Linked DNA regions of Homo sapiens. The protein of the gene in region 2 interacts with the protein of the main gene of each other region in a biochemical or structural test. Each region holds a gene or a part of one and is shown on either strand. Other genes may lie near its edges.

Evidence for each region.
Region 1: the proteins of NHERF2 (region 2) and TMEM151B interact in a test that uses a peptide from one of them, tested with the Homo sapiens proteins (one large-scale study listed by IntAct).
Region 3: the proteins of NHERF2 (region 2) and APPL1 interact in a test that uses a peptide from one of them, tested with the Homo sapiens proteins (one large-scale study listed by IntAct).
Region 4: the proteins of NHERF2 (region 2) and TNRC6B interact in a test that uses a peptide from one of them, tested with the Homo sapiens proteins (one large-scale study listed by IntAct).

Annotation. Positions count from the first base shown.
Region 1 is NC_000006.12:44,269,074-44,273,249, forward strand, and holds the start of TMEM151B (transmembrane protein 151B), read left to right. Parts: upstream 1-1,376; 5' UTR 1,377-1,669; coding exon 1,670-1,804; intron 1,805-3,992; coding exon 3,993-4,176.
Region 2 is NC_000016.10:2,029,902-2,033,401, reverse strand, and holds part of NHERF2 (Na(+)/H(+) exchange regulatory cofactor NHE-RF2), read right to left. Parts: intron 109-3,500; exon of another isoform or gene 51-108; coding exon of another isoform or gene 1-50.
Region 3 is NC_000003.12:57,269,229-57,272,728, forward strand, and holds part of APPL1 (DCC-interacting protein 13-alpha), read left to right. Parts: exon of another isoform or gene 1-312; coding exon 313-459; 3' UTR 460-3,500. UniProt on the Homo sapiens protein: Multifunctional adapter protein that binds to various membrane receptors, nuclear factors and signaling proteins to regulate many processes, such as cell proliferation, immune response, endosomal trafficking and cell metabolism.
Region 4 is NC_000022.11:40,261,425-40,264,924, reverse strand, and holds part of TNRC6B (trinucleotide repeat-containing gene 6B protein), read right to left. Parts: intron 3,094-3,500; coding exon 2,752-3,093; intron 238-2,751; coding exon 1-237.

The sequences.
Region 1 (4,176 bases), on a different chromosome or scaffold from region 2:
AAAATGAAGGCAGGGCCAGGAGTGGGACTAGAGGGGTGGGAGCAGTGGCTCTCCTGTCCCCAACAAGGGGAAGGAACATCCTGGGCAGATCAGTGTGTTTGTACCCTATCCCCCAAAATCAGACATCGAGGCTTTGCCCCAAACTAACTTCCTACCCACAAATATTCCCCATAGATTTTGAGTGGGAAAGATCTGAATTCTAGGACTAGCTCTGTGAGTGCTAGCAGGTGACCTTGAGTAAGCCATTCACTCTCCCTCTGCCTTGGTTCCCTGTGAGTAATTGGGGAGAACAGTTACTGTATGTCAAAGACTCTAATGACACATAGTAGGATTCCACAGTGACTGTGTATGCACAAGATTGATCATGCATGGCTTTTATTATATTCTTCATAATGGTTGTTTTTCATGTTCTTTTCTCCCCATTAGACTTTGTGCTCCTTGCAGGAAGGAAACTGTGTTTCATTTCTGTACTGGGCACACAATAGGTACCCAACACCTGTTTACTGAATGGAGACATCCAGAAATGAATGAATGAATAAATGTCAGGGTCCTTCCTGCTGTGCCAGGGGATACAGGGAAAAGCAGTGTGGGGTGGATGGCCTGAAAGGATAGGCTGCCTGCAGTGGCTCAGCCTGGCTTGCTTCCTACACCTACAAGTCAGAGCCTTAGAAATTGTCCAGTCAACTTCCTCACTGCACAGATGAAGAAATTAAGGCTCAGAGACAGGAAGGCACTTGCCCAAGGTCACATAACTCCTTAATGACAGATACAGAATTCAGAATTAGAACTCAGGTTTCCTGCCCTCCAGCCTAGGGTATTGCACACACTTCACTGCTTCTCTGGAGCTGTTCTTTTAGGGAAGAAAGATGGTTCAGTGAAGGCCGGTTCCAATGCCCTCCCCTCTGCCCTCTGTTAGTCCTTTCCCACATCTAGCTTCAATCTCTTCCCTTTCCCCCTATTCCATTCCTCTGGAAGTCTAGCTTCTGCCTTAACCCTTCACCACGAAACTGGGAGTAAGGATCTTCCCTAGGGTTCCAAGAATCAATTTCCTCTCCCCACTCCTCTGCCCTGGGAACTTGGGGGAACCAGAGATGTGTGTGTGTGTGGGGGGGTGCTGTTGGTTGAACCTCGGGCACCGAGTCCACGGAGAACAGATGGAGAGGGGTTGCGGCACAGATTCTCCCAGGATAGGAGCGCGGGAGGGAGGTGCAGTGAGCAGGGCTGGGAGCGGGGAAGAGGTGTGGGGAGTCCCTGTTGCTTTACCCCTTCGGGGGGTGGTTATTAGGTAGGCTTGGGAAGGCGGAGTTTGGGGGGCTGGGGGCGGGGCTCGGCTGCGCTGGCAGGAAAGGGGGGGCGCGCTGGCTCCAGCTCGGCTCAGACAAAAGGCGGCGGCGGGAGCGGGCGGGAGGCGGAGCGGCGCCGCGAGGGCCTCAAGGTGACACCCGCCCCCGGCCCCGGCCCCCCCCGGCCCGGCCCCCCAGCCTGCCTCCCACCCTCAGCCCCCAGCCCCTTACTCCCGGTGCCCTTTCCGGGCCCCCTCCCCCGGCGGGGGGTGGGGAGCAGCGAGGGCCCCGCCCCCTCCCGTCCTCTCCCCAGGGCCCGCGCAGGATGCCCCCGGCCCCTGGCAGCCCCCCGGGAGGTCCTGAGCTCGACGCGCCCCCTCTACGCCATGTCCCCCCCTGGCTCGGCCGCGGGAGAGAGCGCCGCCGGCGGCGGCGGCGGCGGTGGCGGCCCCGGGGTCTCGGAGGAGCTCACGGCGGCGGCGGCAGCGGCGGCGGCGGACGAGGGCCCCGCCCGAGAGGAGGTGAGAGTCTAGGGCGCCCCTTCCCCGGGCGCGGCCGCAGCCTGGCCCCCCATCCCCCATCGCACGCGTCCCCCGCTGGTTCCGCCGCAGCGCGGCCGGCGCCCCGCACCCCGAGCCGGCCGCTGCAGCCGCAGTCCGCGCCGCCGCCCCCACCCGGCGGCCGGAGCTGTCCGCGGTGCCGGGGAAGGGGCCGCGCCGGGGGCGGGGCTCAGGGGTCCCGGGCAGGGGGAGGGGCCTAGGGGCGGAGCCTCGCGGATCCTGGGCTTATGAGAGTGGGGGCTATGCTCTACCGGGGTGGGGACGGTGGCGGGGATCCTGTCTCACAGAGGAGGATGCTACCTTGAAGGCCAGGAAGGGCGGCTTGTACGGGCTACAGAACGAGGAGGGTACCATGGGGAAGTGGTGGTGGTACCTGATCTGGGACCCTAAGGAGGTCAGATGTGTACGGGGGGTCCCGCCTGTGGTCATTGGGAGTGTGTGTGTGTGTGTGTGGGGGGGGGTGTGCACCTCTCTCTCACGAGGCTCCTGCTGCTTCCTCATATCCCTAGTTGGGGTCCCTAGTACTCAGTCCTCTGAACCTGAAGACAAAGAGACGGAGGAAAGTACCAGGAGCACCCCCACTCCAGCCTCCCATGCACACTTGTGCACACGCATGCACCCTGTACTAGGGCAGAGGCACACAAGCGGGGATGGGCCTGCAGGTAAAGCCCCTTTCAGAGGTACCCACATGGGGACAAGCACATAACCAGGTAGGCACACGAAGGGGCCCGTATGTTCATACCTCCTAAGGACAAGGCTCCCCGAAAGGCACATGTACCCTAATCTCCTTGTCCACATGTACTGTGTGCTATTTCCTAGCTCGCCTAACTATCCATACTTCTAGATCCAGGGACCGATGCCTATTACTGTACCCTTCTTTTCCACTCTTTTCCTCTCTTTCCTGGCTGGCCTCTAGGTCAGGCCTGAGGAATTGAGGGGGTAAGTCAGGATCCCAGCAGGAGGTTGTGTGTGTGTGTGTGTGTGTGTGTGTGGTGGGGGATGGGTTCCTAAAGCTAGACAGCACAGAGGAGGGGTGGGAAAACAGAGGCCACTACAAGAAATTAAACTCAACACTCAATTAGGATGTGGCTGCTGGGGGCCAGCACCATGGTAGGCACCTAGGATGCAAAGAGAATGAAGCATGGGCCCTCAGGAGTACCCAGTGTAGTGGGGAGCCAGACATGTAAACAACTCCTGGGCCAACCCTGGGACAGAATGTGCCAGGAGCTTTAACAGACAGGCTCCAGGAGAGTACCAAAAATAATTTTCTCTTGATAAATTGCTGGGCTTCAAACGTTGTCCTCGCTACCCCAGTCCCACATCCCCTATGCCTGTCCTCTCCTCAGCCACATGCCTCTGCCCTTCTGGATACCTCCTCCTGGACTGCCTGCCGCTCAGGGACCCCAGCCCCCTCCCTCCCATCCTAGGACAAAGGGAAGGATGTCAGGGTGCAGGAGGGAGACTCACAGGGGAACCAGGGTCCAGAACATGGGGAATGAGACTGGGCCTGGGGTTCTCTGGAGGCCCTTATCCAAAGGACGTGTTAGGCTAATTGTGAGGGTTAGGGAGGTGGATGGGTCAGAGGGGAGTAGCTCCTCTAGAACCTAGGACTGAAAAAAATCTGGAAGTGAGGGCCCCACTTGTTAAGTGGGGAAGTGATGTCAGTGGGTCCCTCCCCCTTTTCTAGAGGACCTGGAAGGGGTCTGGGCTGGGGACCTTCCTTCGCTGATGCCTGTCTGTCTGTCCTCCCCTGTCTTCCCTGTCCACATCTTCTGTTTCATTGCCATTTTTGTGTTTGTCTTCGGATGCTCTCTGGGTACCATCCTATCCATCTGTGTTTGCTGCCTGGGCCTCTATCTCTGGCTCTGATCCTTCTCTGCCTCTTGGGGTGTCTCTCTCTGCACTCTCCTGTACTGGCATTCCGGTCCCCTTTCCTGTCCTCTGGCTTGCTCTGTGTCACTTCTGTTTCTACCTCTGGCCCCTGGCTCCCATCTTGGTCTCACCTTTTCTCTCCATATCCCTGTTTCTCTCTGCCTGTTATCTCTGGTGCTGGCCTCTGCCCCTCCATCCCCGTATCCATCTCTGTGCTGGGTCCTGCCTGCTCTCACTTCCCACTCATCTTGGCCCCTCTCCCTGCCCACCTGAGCAGCAGCGTCCCATCCAGCCCTCTTTCACCAAGTCCCTCTGCCGTGAGTCCCACTGGAAGTGCCTCCTGCTCTCGCTGCTCATGTACGGCTGCCTGGGGGCAGTGGCCTGGTGCCACGTCACCACAGTGACGCGCCTCACCTTCAGCAGCGCCTACCAGGGCAACAGCCTCATGTACCATGACAGCC
Region 2 (3,500 bases):
GGGGCTCCCGGAGCCCGGGCAGGTGGCGTGGCACTCCCGGAGCGTGCCATGACAGCGGCACAGTGACAGCAAGTGGCAGGCGTCCGGCCGGGGTGGCCTGAACTCTCTGGCCGACCCAGGCTGCCACCCCACTTATCTACCTCCCTCTGCGGCCCTGGCTCCCCGGGGATGGGTGGGGACGTGGGGGCTGAGTCACTCTGGGGAGCAGGGTGATGACTGAGCCCGCTCCCCTGCGAAGGCTCCAGCCTGGCGCCCCCCACCCAGCTAGGCTTCCGTCCCAAGAAAGGAAGGAAGGAAGCTGCTGGAAGGCCCTGCCCTGCCCCAGGACCCAGGGCTGAGGGGACAGGGAGGAGTCCCGGCCCCAGAACACAGGACGGTCCTGTTGAGGCTCCAGAGGAGCAAGAGCCAGGGAAGCCCGGAAGCCCCCGCAGGCACCGCGCCCCAACCACACAGCCGCCTCCCGCAGAACTGTCACCCCTCACACCTGCTCTTAGCCCCCAAGGCCCTCCAGATGGGGGTGGAGACATGGGCTAGGGGCAGGGGGCAGAGGGCTCAGGGTCTGCCACCACCTCCAGGGCCTGGCACCGCTGGCCACCCCGTCTCTGTTTGGGGGCTGTCCCCTGTCGTCACTACTAGGATCAGCTGCACTGCAGCTGCGGCCACCCCCAGCCTGGTGTGGCCCAGGGCTGAGTCATCACTAACTAGGCCTTCACGGCCCCCAAAAGGAGGGGCCAACCACATCAGTGTCCTCCCCTGCCCACCTCCCCTATCCCCAGCCAGGACAGAGGACACTGAGAGCCACCCTTAGCTCCCAGGGGGCACCCAAAGTTGGGCCCTCTCCATCCTTCACCAAAGACAAACTACACACATCCCTTCCAGAGCTCTGCCTCTCTGCCACCAGTGCCCCCACTGGAGCCATCCCCGCAAGGTAAGCTTTGCCCTCCTGGGCTCCCTGACCATCTGAGGCATGCCCTGAACCCAGGCTGAGAAGGGCAGGATCTGAGCCTGCTCTGTGGAGGTCAGGTGAGGCCCACCTCTTCCTGCCCATGCTGGGAGCTCAGGTGAAGAAACCTCAGGTCCTGAGCCAGGCGCAGGGGCTCACACCTGTAATCCCAGCACTTTGGGAGGCTGAGGCAGGCGGATCACTTGAGCCCAAGAGTTTGAGACCAGCCTGGCCAACACGGTGAAACCCTGTCTCTACCAAAAACACAAAAATTAGCCAGGTGTGGTGGTACACGCCTGTAATCCCAGCTACTCAGCAGGCTGAGACATAAGAATTGCTTGAACCCAGGAGGCGGAGCTTGCAGTGAGCCGAGATCGCACCACAGCACTCCAGCCTGGGCGACAGAGTGAAACTCCGTCTCAAAAAAAAAAAAAAAGAAAGAAAGAAATGAAACCTCAGACCTCAGGGGCCGGGTACAGTGGCTCACACCTGTAATCCCAGAACTTTGGGAGGTCGAGGAGGGCAGATCACCTGAGATCAGGAGTTCGAGACCAGCTTGAGCAACATGGTGAAACCCCGTCTCTACTAAAAACACAAAAATTAGTCAGGTGTGGTGGTGCGCGCCTGTAATCCCAGCTACTGGGGAGGGTGAGGCAAGAGAATCGCTTGAACCCAGACAGCGGAGGTTGTAGTGAGCCAAGAAAGAAAAAGAAAAAGAAACCTCAGGTCTTGATGCCAGAAGAGAGAAGGGGAGACCCTGTTCCTTGGGTGCCCCCTGACCTCCTGGAGCCCCTGTCCCCAGCCAGACTCATGCACAAAGGGACCTGCCACTCAGGCCACCCTTTGTTCCTCTAAAAATACACCCAGAGGAAGCCCCTCCTAGGGCTTCCTGCAGCCCCCAGAGCCTGAAATAGCAGAGGGGGAAGGTCCCACCCAAGGCAAGGTGCCTGGGCCACTGCACCCTCCAGATAAAGTCCGAGGGCCGGATTTTTCCACAGGAAGGTGAACCATGCGTTTGTGTCCAAATCAATGGACAAACGCCTGAGGCAGAGGGGGAGCTTCCTCCTGGGGGAGGGAAGGTGGCTGGGAAAGAGGGAGGCCCCAACCCTCAGCCTGGAGACAGGGGCTTAGGACCAGCCAGCCCCCCTGCAAGGCCAGCCCCCCCACCAGCCCTGGGCTGGGCACCTTGGCCCTGAGCACCACTGTGGCCCGCCCTCAAGCCCCAGGAACAAAACGGGTCCCACAGGTCCCACGGGCAGGCCTGCGCCCAGGCTGGGCTCCCCACAGGGAATGCTGTCTCCCTGCCAAGCCGCTCCCCCCGGGCTCAGCTCCTAGGGGCAGCCAGCTTCAGCAGTGACGTCTGGGAAAGGGAGAAAGTGAATGTGTATATCCCCTGCACCCTCAGAACTCCAGATCCCACACCCCTGCCCCAAGCGCGGTTCTCACAGTGGGGTCTGGCCAACCCCTGGACTCATATCCCCTGAAGGGATTTCTTTCTTTTCCTTTTTTTGTTTTTTTTTGAGACAGTCTCACTCTGTCGCCTAGGCTGGAGTGCTATGGCGGGATCTCGGCTCACTGAAACCTCCGCCTGCCGGGTTCAAGCGACTCTCCTGCCTCAGCCTCCCAAGTAGCTGGGACTATAGGCGTGCCCCACCATGCCCAACTGATTTTTGTATTTTTAGTAGAGACGGGGGTTTCACCACATTAGTCAAGCTGGTCTCAAAATTCCTGACCTCAGGTGATCCACCCATCTCAGCCTCCCGAAGTGTTGGGATTACAGGCGTGAGCCACCGCACCCGGCCAGGGTTCTCTTTGAAAATGAAAAAAAAAAAAAAAAAAAGGTAGGAGAGAACATGGAGATAATGCCATCAGGGCCTCCAGGAAGATAAGACAGACAGCTTCAGGCTGTTCCTCCTGGTCCCCAAGGCCTGCCAGGCCGCCCCTCCCAGTCGGCCACCTAGCAGGAGGTGGAGCAGGCCGCCCCTGTACTTTTCTGGGTCTCCTGGCTGGGAGCAAGGGCAGGGGAAGGAGGAAGTACTACCCAGCAGGAGTCCAGGAGGAACAGCAGACAGGGTCCCAGGGCCCTCCCTTGTATCTAGGGGGAGGAGTGGGCTCACCCTGGAGCCTCCTGGACCCCCAACTCCACTCCCATGCTCCCAGCCCCACCTACGCCAGGCCTGGCAGAGTGGCCTCCTAGGCTTCCCCAACCACGGCGCTGCCTGTGGAGAAGGCCGGCCCTCTCCCAGGCCTTCCCAGCATGCAGGCGCCTTCAACAGAGACAAAGACAGAGCCACGGATGACACCCAGCACAGGCACAGAGCTGCGCACACGCAGACCTGGAATGCCTCTTCCCAGGGTTCCTCAGCCACGAGGCTGGGGGCTGGGGAGGCGGCAGCTTGTCAGAGTGACCCCTCGATAGGGCAAGTGGCTCTGGAGCATCCTGGAGAAGAGGAACAGGCCAGGCTGCCCTGACCCTACCCAGTTTAAAACACAGGCTGAGGGTAGAAACAGTGGCCCCCAGTGGCCAACAAGATGGTCCCTGGGGCAGAAAAGGAGC
Region 3 (3,500 bases), on a different chromosome or scaffold from region 2:
GATCCCTTTCGAGGGTTTTACTATAATATATAGTGAGAGATGATTGATGATGGGCTTTATTTGGTTGTTGGTCATAAAAAAAGAAAGATAAAATATTAGATTTTAGTTTGAATGCTGGCTTTTATAGGATGGTGCCAAAATTCATTTTGGTGTTGTATTGTTTGGGTGTAGCTTTTCTTTTTATCAAGTTGTCAGAAGTATGCATACATATTTATGACAGAAGAAGTGGCTCTCAAGAATGTATCTTAACTGCATAATTTGCCATTTGACTGCAGACAAGTAACTTAGTTTCTTTTTTGTCTTTTCCACTAGGACTTGGAAGAACAAAGTCGGTTGATAGCTGCTTCCAGTAGACCAAACCAAGCCAGTAGTGAGGGGCAGTTTGTTGTCCTTAGCAGTAGCCAGTCAGAAGAGAGTGATTTGGGAGAAGGAGGAAAGAAGAGAGAATCAGAAGCATAAGCTTATACTTTTGGTAGATATTCCCCCTTGGAATTTGACAGTTTCTATGGTGAAATGGCAGAAGGTAACAACTATGTTGAAATATCAAGGAGGAGATTAAGCTTTATATTTGCTTATTTGTTGTAGCTACATTTTAAAAAAAAGATTGAACTTGATGACTTAGGTTTGCATTGATCTTTTTTCCCCCTTAAACATAATGTACTATGTATTAACATCTAAAGGAAACCTGCTCATCTCCCTGAAGCAGACTGCTGAGGAATTACATTTGCTCAAGAATTTTTTCCGTCAAATTGTGAACTTTTAATTCTTGCATTGTAATTGGCTGTGTCCATAAGAAATCATTTATTCTTCAGGCTTAGACATTCATGGATATGCTTTTCTTTCATTAGGAACATTTTGCTGGTGATGAGGAAGCATTTAGCTGAATAAGTTTAAAGCCCTTTATACAGAGAATTCTACAAGTTTGCAAATATTTTAACAATATTAAATGTGCAATAGAACTTTTATAAAATAATTAGAACAGAGATTTTACAGTTAAGGTTTCAAATTGTGGCAGGTGGTACTGTTGATCTCAGGGTACTTTCTGGGATTGCTCACATTTCTCTAATGTACTGCACTTGATGCCAGTAGGAAAGAAGCTTAAGTGTCTTCAGTTCAAGATTGATAGAGCCCTTGGCATTTTATTATCACATTCTTAGTTCTCAGGTTGGGACTTCAATTACTGCTGCAGAGCAGTAGTGGTTAAAAATAAGATATTGGAATTTATTAAAAGATTTTTGTTCAATACATTTTAGATTAGGATTGACAAGTAAAGATACTGCTATGGAATGATACATTGTATTTTCTGCATTGTGTGAAATAGTTTTTATTGAAAGTCAAGTGACATTTCAAAAGAAGTTCTATAACAATTATGTTTCATGCTTAAAGTAAAAATTCCCAGAGTTTAGTTTAGAAAATGTAATCTTTTAAATTTCAGACTGATATATTCCCAGTATTTTCATAATGCCATGTTTTGATAAAGTACTGAATCACCACTTTATATCCACAAAGGCAAATAACTAATGTATGATAATAGAATAATTTGCACTAATTATTGTAAATATGTCTACTCTTCAAATGAGTAAAAGGTCCAATTTTGTGAAAGATTGAAAATGAATTGAATGCCTAGTAGAGTATAGGAGAAGTTGACCAAGGAAGGATTTAACCTGGTGCCAAGGTTAAAATAACATTTCTCTACTGCCTATTGTTTATGTTAAACCTTAATTTTTTTTCTGTAATCACTTTTAACACTGCTAATAGAAATTATGTTTTCATGTGTTTCACATGAAAAAGTATATATATACAAAGTTAATATAGTGGGTAAAATACTTTACATAGTCACACATTTACAAATTTTTCAAGAGGTTAGCCACTAAGACTTTAATAATTTTACAAGGGAAAAAGCCTTTTTTTTTCTTTGATATACAGTTTTTTCTTCTTAGTTCTGCATTAGAAATGGCATCTGTTTTAGGTCTCAAAATATAACTCAGCTGTTTCACACTGTATATGTACATTGTTTTCTGTAGGAATAGGATAATGATATATAGGATCATGATATTCCTTCTATCCATGTGCCAAATGGGTGTAATGTTTATTTACTGATGCTTTATGTTACCAAAACATACAGTAAAAAAGTAGAAATTTATGAAATACTTTTGATAAAAAGTTTATTTTGTGCTTACCAAAAGGAATGCTTTCACAATAGTGTATCAGTTCTTTTGTTTTGTTAAAGTTGGAATTTATTCTGTTGCCAGCATTTAAGTAGTCATGGCAAGTCCTGTTTTTAAGACCTTTTGGAGACTGGAGCTTTCTGTTCCATTAAGTCTTTTGTTTATACTACAAATTGTCACCTCACTTAGTTCAGATGAAATCTGTTACTCTACAAGGAAGGTGTTCATCATTAGGAGGCAGCTTTACTAAGCTGGTGCTTTGCATGGTAGCAAGTGCTGCCCTTTATCAGCACCCTGGGTCATAGTGTAGGCTAGAGTTAAGGCACTGGCAGACTTAGGGATGCTGGACAGACCTGTAGTTCGTTTTAAGTCATGTTCACAGGAATTTCTACAATAATAAACCCATCATCTCCATAGGTCAGATCGAAGTGCATTCCAATGCTAAATAGAAGTTATGAGTGGGTTTAACAATTTTAGATGATTCAGCTTTTGTTCCATTACTGTTGAACTATATGAACTATTCCATTACTGCAGAGATTTAAGTATCTGTTTTAATAAGCTCTTTTTGTTATTTAAAGGCTGCCCATGGGTTTCTGCCTAGTGGTAAAGCTGATTGTTACCCTCCTTTGAAATCCCTTCTAGTTCTGAGATGCTTTGAGGGTAACTGGATTCGATTTTGGGATATCTTTTCTCACATTCAGACTTACACTTAATGGTGTTAGAAATCAACAAAACTCCTTTTTAAAAAGAAAAGATATTAAGCCTGCCTACTTCTACAATGCATTCTGTTACCTATTTGAACAGTATGTTTGTAACTATGGCAATGAAGTCAGTAGATAGGAAACCAGTTATTCCTTCTACCTTTAAAAATTTTGAGAACTTGCCAACCAGGGATTAAAGCTATTATCTTGAACAGAGTCCCTAAAGCTAGTCTAGTTTTTGCCACATCTGCAATGATTATTGTTTAATTTCAAAAGAATCCTCAGGCTCTACAATCTAGGGGTGGTAAATGTGTTTCCACTATACTTGGGAAAAGGTCAGTAGGATGTGCATCCTAGGGAAGATAAAATCGTATATGGTAAAGGCATTTGAGTTAATTTTGCATTATATCTAGGAACCATATTATTTAAAATTTGAATCCTATTAATGCTGAGAGATCCTAAGAGCTAGTATGTTGTAAAACCTGCCACCTGAATAAAATGAAAAAAAAAGTGTTTTTTTGAGACAGAGTCTTGCTCTGTTGCCCAGGCTGGAGTGCAGTGGTGTGATCTTGGGTCACTGCAAACTCCGCCTCCCAGGTTCACGCCATTCTCCTGCCTCAGCCTCCCGAGT
Region 4 (3,500 bases), on a different chromosome or scaffold from region 2:
GCAGAGTGCTCTTCTCAGAGCCAGGGTTCGAGGCACTGTTGTTATCGGTGGTGTTTTCGGAAGAAGATTCAGTGTCTTTGCTGGCAATACAAGGCCACTCTTCCATGTCAGACCCGTCTACAATCACCTTGTCCCAGATGTGAATTGGGTTGGGGGAGGTGCCGTTGTTGGAGGAGGCTCCCGAGCCCCAAGTGGAATTTGCATAATTTGAAGCAGCAGCACCTCCAAGGGTTGAGTCTGGGGAACAGATCATCTTATTAATCACAGCTTCAAATGCATTCATTACCCATTAATCCCTCAAAGGGGCTCTCCTTTGAGCTCTGCCCTTAGGAGAGCTGATCACATGCCAGTTTCTCTCAACCCAGTTGCTTGTATCACAACTGTCTTAGTCATCTCTTTTTTTTCATTTGCCTTGTGTTACACCGGTTAAGTCTAACTTCATCTCTCTCAAAGCTACGTCCTTTGCCATTCCTATTGACAGAGAAGGGCCTTCTTGTATCTTGGGACAAGGCAATAGCAATGGCACTCTAAACTTGCTCTGTATCTTCAACCTACTCTAAACACCCCTGGCTGGAGCAATCTTTCTAAAGCACACTTTTGATTATATCACTGCTGTATGGAGAACCTTCAACAGTTCCTTAGTGCACAAGAATAAAGCTGAACTCCTTGGCCTCGAATGTCATCAAGATGTTCCATGACCTGGGACCAACCAACTTTTCTAGTCTTATCTTCTACTACCTCCTATGTAGATGTCAATATTCGATACTACTTGACATTCCACAACTTGTGCCTTCTCACTCTGGCACCATTTCACGTTGGCACCTACTGTGTTTTCCTGCTGAATTCACACAGTGAAATTTACTCATCCTTCTGGGCCCAATTCAAGTGTCATTTCATCTGCGAAGCTGTTTTCAAGCTCATCACCTGAAAATAATCTTTCCCTGTCTAGAGCCATTTTGCTCAGTGCTGTGGCACCATGTTCACAACTTTCCTTCCCCATGTTAGCGTCTTTTAGGCAGAGACCCTAACTTGCTAACGTTAGAATTCCACACAGCAGCCAGCACAATGCTGCGGAGTAAGCATCTGCTGAATGATGAATACCCACTGAGCCACTGAGCTAGGTGCCCAGGGTGGCAGGGGTGTCACATGAGTATGAATTAGGCAGAGTTCACAACCCCAAGGAACTTAATCTGTTAAATGAGTCTGGCTCACCATATATTTTGGTGGAATTTACCATATTTGGTGGGAAAAACATGTTTTTAATGAGATCATTTCTTCTAAATTTATTTTGGCTTCTTTAACCAGGCAGCTTTTAATCAATTTGAAGTTTCAAAAAGTATTATACGGAGGCATAGAAAAATAAAAAGCATAGAAACCGAAACTCGAGATTTAGGGGCCTCCTCCGTTTTAATAATGTGGACTCTGACTCACACTGGACCCCAGTCTCCACCTAGGCCTGGCTACACTCGGCTGCAGAAACTCCGCCTGACAGGGCCTGCCCCTTCACATGCTTCCTTTTGCAGCTGGTTTGGAGAGCCAGGAAGGAAAGGCCATGGGTAGGGCTTATCTCTGCAGGAAGTCTGTGTCACCACGAGGTTTCTTTCCATCCTTACTCTGCACACAGCAAGATGGTGACCAAATTTTCTAGGCAATTATTTGTTTAAACTCAGAACTCAAATAAAGCATCCTACTGGTGACAACCATCAATTCATTATCTTTGCCAATGCCTAATGGTATTCAAGCTCTGAATTTTAATATCACCCCAAAAGACATTTTAAGTTGAAATCTGTTAATAAACTTTAAAAGATATTTAGAATTTCTTAGCTGTTAGTTGACTTAGTATTCATCTATTAAAAACTCTCACAACTTTTTTTTTTTTTTTTTTAAGACGGAGTCTGGCTCTGTCACCCAGGCTGGAGTGCAATGGCGCGACCTCGGCTCACTGCAAGCTCCGCCTCCTGGGTTGACGCCATTCTCCTGCCTCAGCCTCCCGAGTAGCTGGGACTACAGGAGCCCGCCACCATGCCTGGCTAATTTTTTTATATTTTTAGTAGAGACAGGGTTTCACCATGTTAGCCAGGGTGGTCTCGATCTCCTGACCTGGTGATCCACCCGCCTCGGCCTCCCAAAGTGCTGGGATTACAGGCGTGAGCCACCGTGCCCGGCCAAAAACTCTCAAAACTTCTAGTAGAACCTTTCAGCTAAATATCCCTTATTTCTACATACAGTTTTTAACAAAGCTCAAAATCCAGGGCCCACAAAAAGAAATACTGAGTTTAAAAATCTAATTTAAAAACTATAGTATTATTTTAGAATCCTCCGAAGATTCTATATTGCAATGTAGCAAATCATTTTCTCTATCCTCCTAGCATTCTGGAAACATAACACAGGCATCTAAAGATTCGCCTTCGCACAAGCCCCATGTCCAATTATGCCCTGAACACATATGACGGTGGAACTATGGAGGCTCAAATTTGTAACACTCTAGTCTGAGAAGGAAAAAAGGCCCCCAAAATAATAAGCAACAGCAGTTAAGTTAGCCCTTATGCCAAGAGCACACACTTACGGAACACTAAACCTCAGTTCCAAGAATCACCAATACACATCGCATACTAGGATCCTCTCTCATCTTTTGACTAATCCCAGTGGTTTATATAATGAATGGCTTTCCTGGACTTTACATCAAGCAATGCAAACAAAGTGCTCTCTCTCTGTCAAGCTGCCATGCATTCGATTCACAGGGTGCCTTACCTGGCGCAGTCCCACTCTCACTCTGCAGCAGCGCTCCTGTCACTTGTGCGTTGTTTGGGTTTGCTCCAGGTGCTGTGCAGGGAGGAGGCCCTGCCCCACCCCCAAGGAGCATGCAGGACGGTGGAGGGGGCTGCCCACGTTTTAGTAACACTTTGTGGTCCTGCTGGCAACGGAATCGCGGCGGCACCTCCCGAGGCATGTAGCGGGCGGCGCTTGGCGGTTGTCCGTTCGGCACTGCCACCCTTTTGGCATTGTTGCCACCATTGACTGGTGGCGATGGAGAGCTGCCAATTGGGCTGGCGGCCGTTGGTTGGCTTAAACTTGGTTTCGTCACTTCGGGCACTAAAAGAGAGGGGTTGGGAAACAGTCTTTGAAATACATCAAATACATTTTTTCTAAAAATTTTAAAAATAATTTTATTATTTTATTTAGAGATGGGGTCTTGCCATGTTGCCCATGCTGGTCTTGAACTCGGGCTCAAGGGACTCTCCCACCTTGGCTTTCCAAAGTGCTAGAATTACAAGAGTGAGCCACTGTGCCTGGCCAAGATTATTATTTATTTATTTATTTATTTATTTTTGAGACGGAGTCTCACACTGTCACCCAGTGTGAGTGTCGCCCAGGCTGGAGTGCAGTGGTGCAATCTCCGCTCACTGCAACCTCCGCCTCCCAGGTTCAAGCAATTCTCCTGCCTCAGCCTCCCAAGTAGCTCGGATTACAGGCGCCCACCACCAAAACCAGCTAATTTT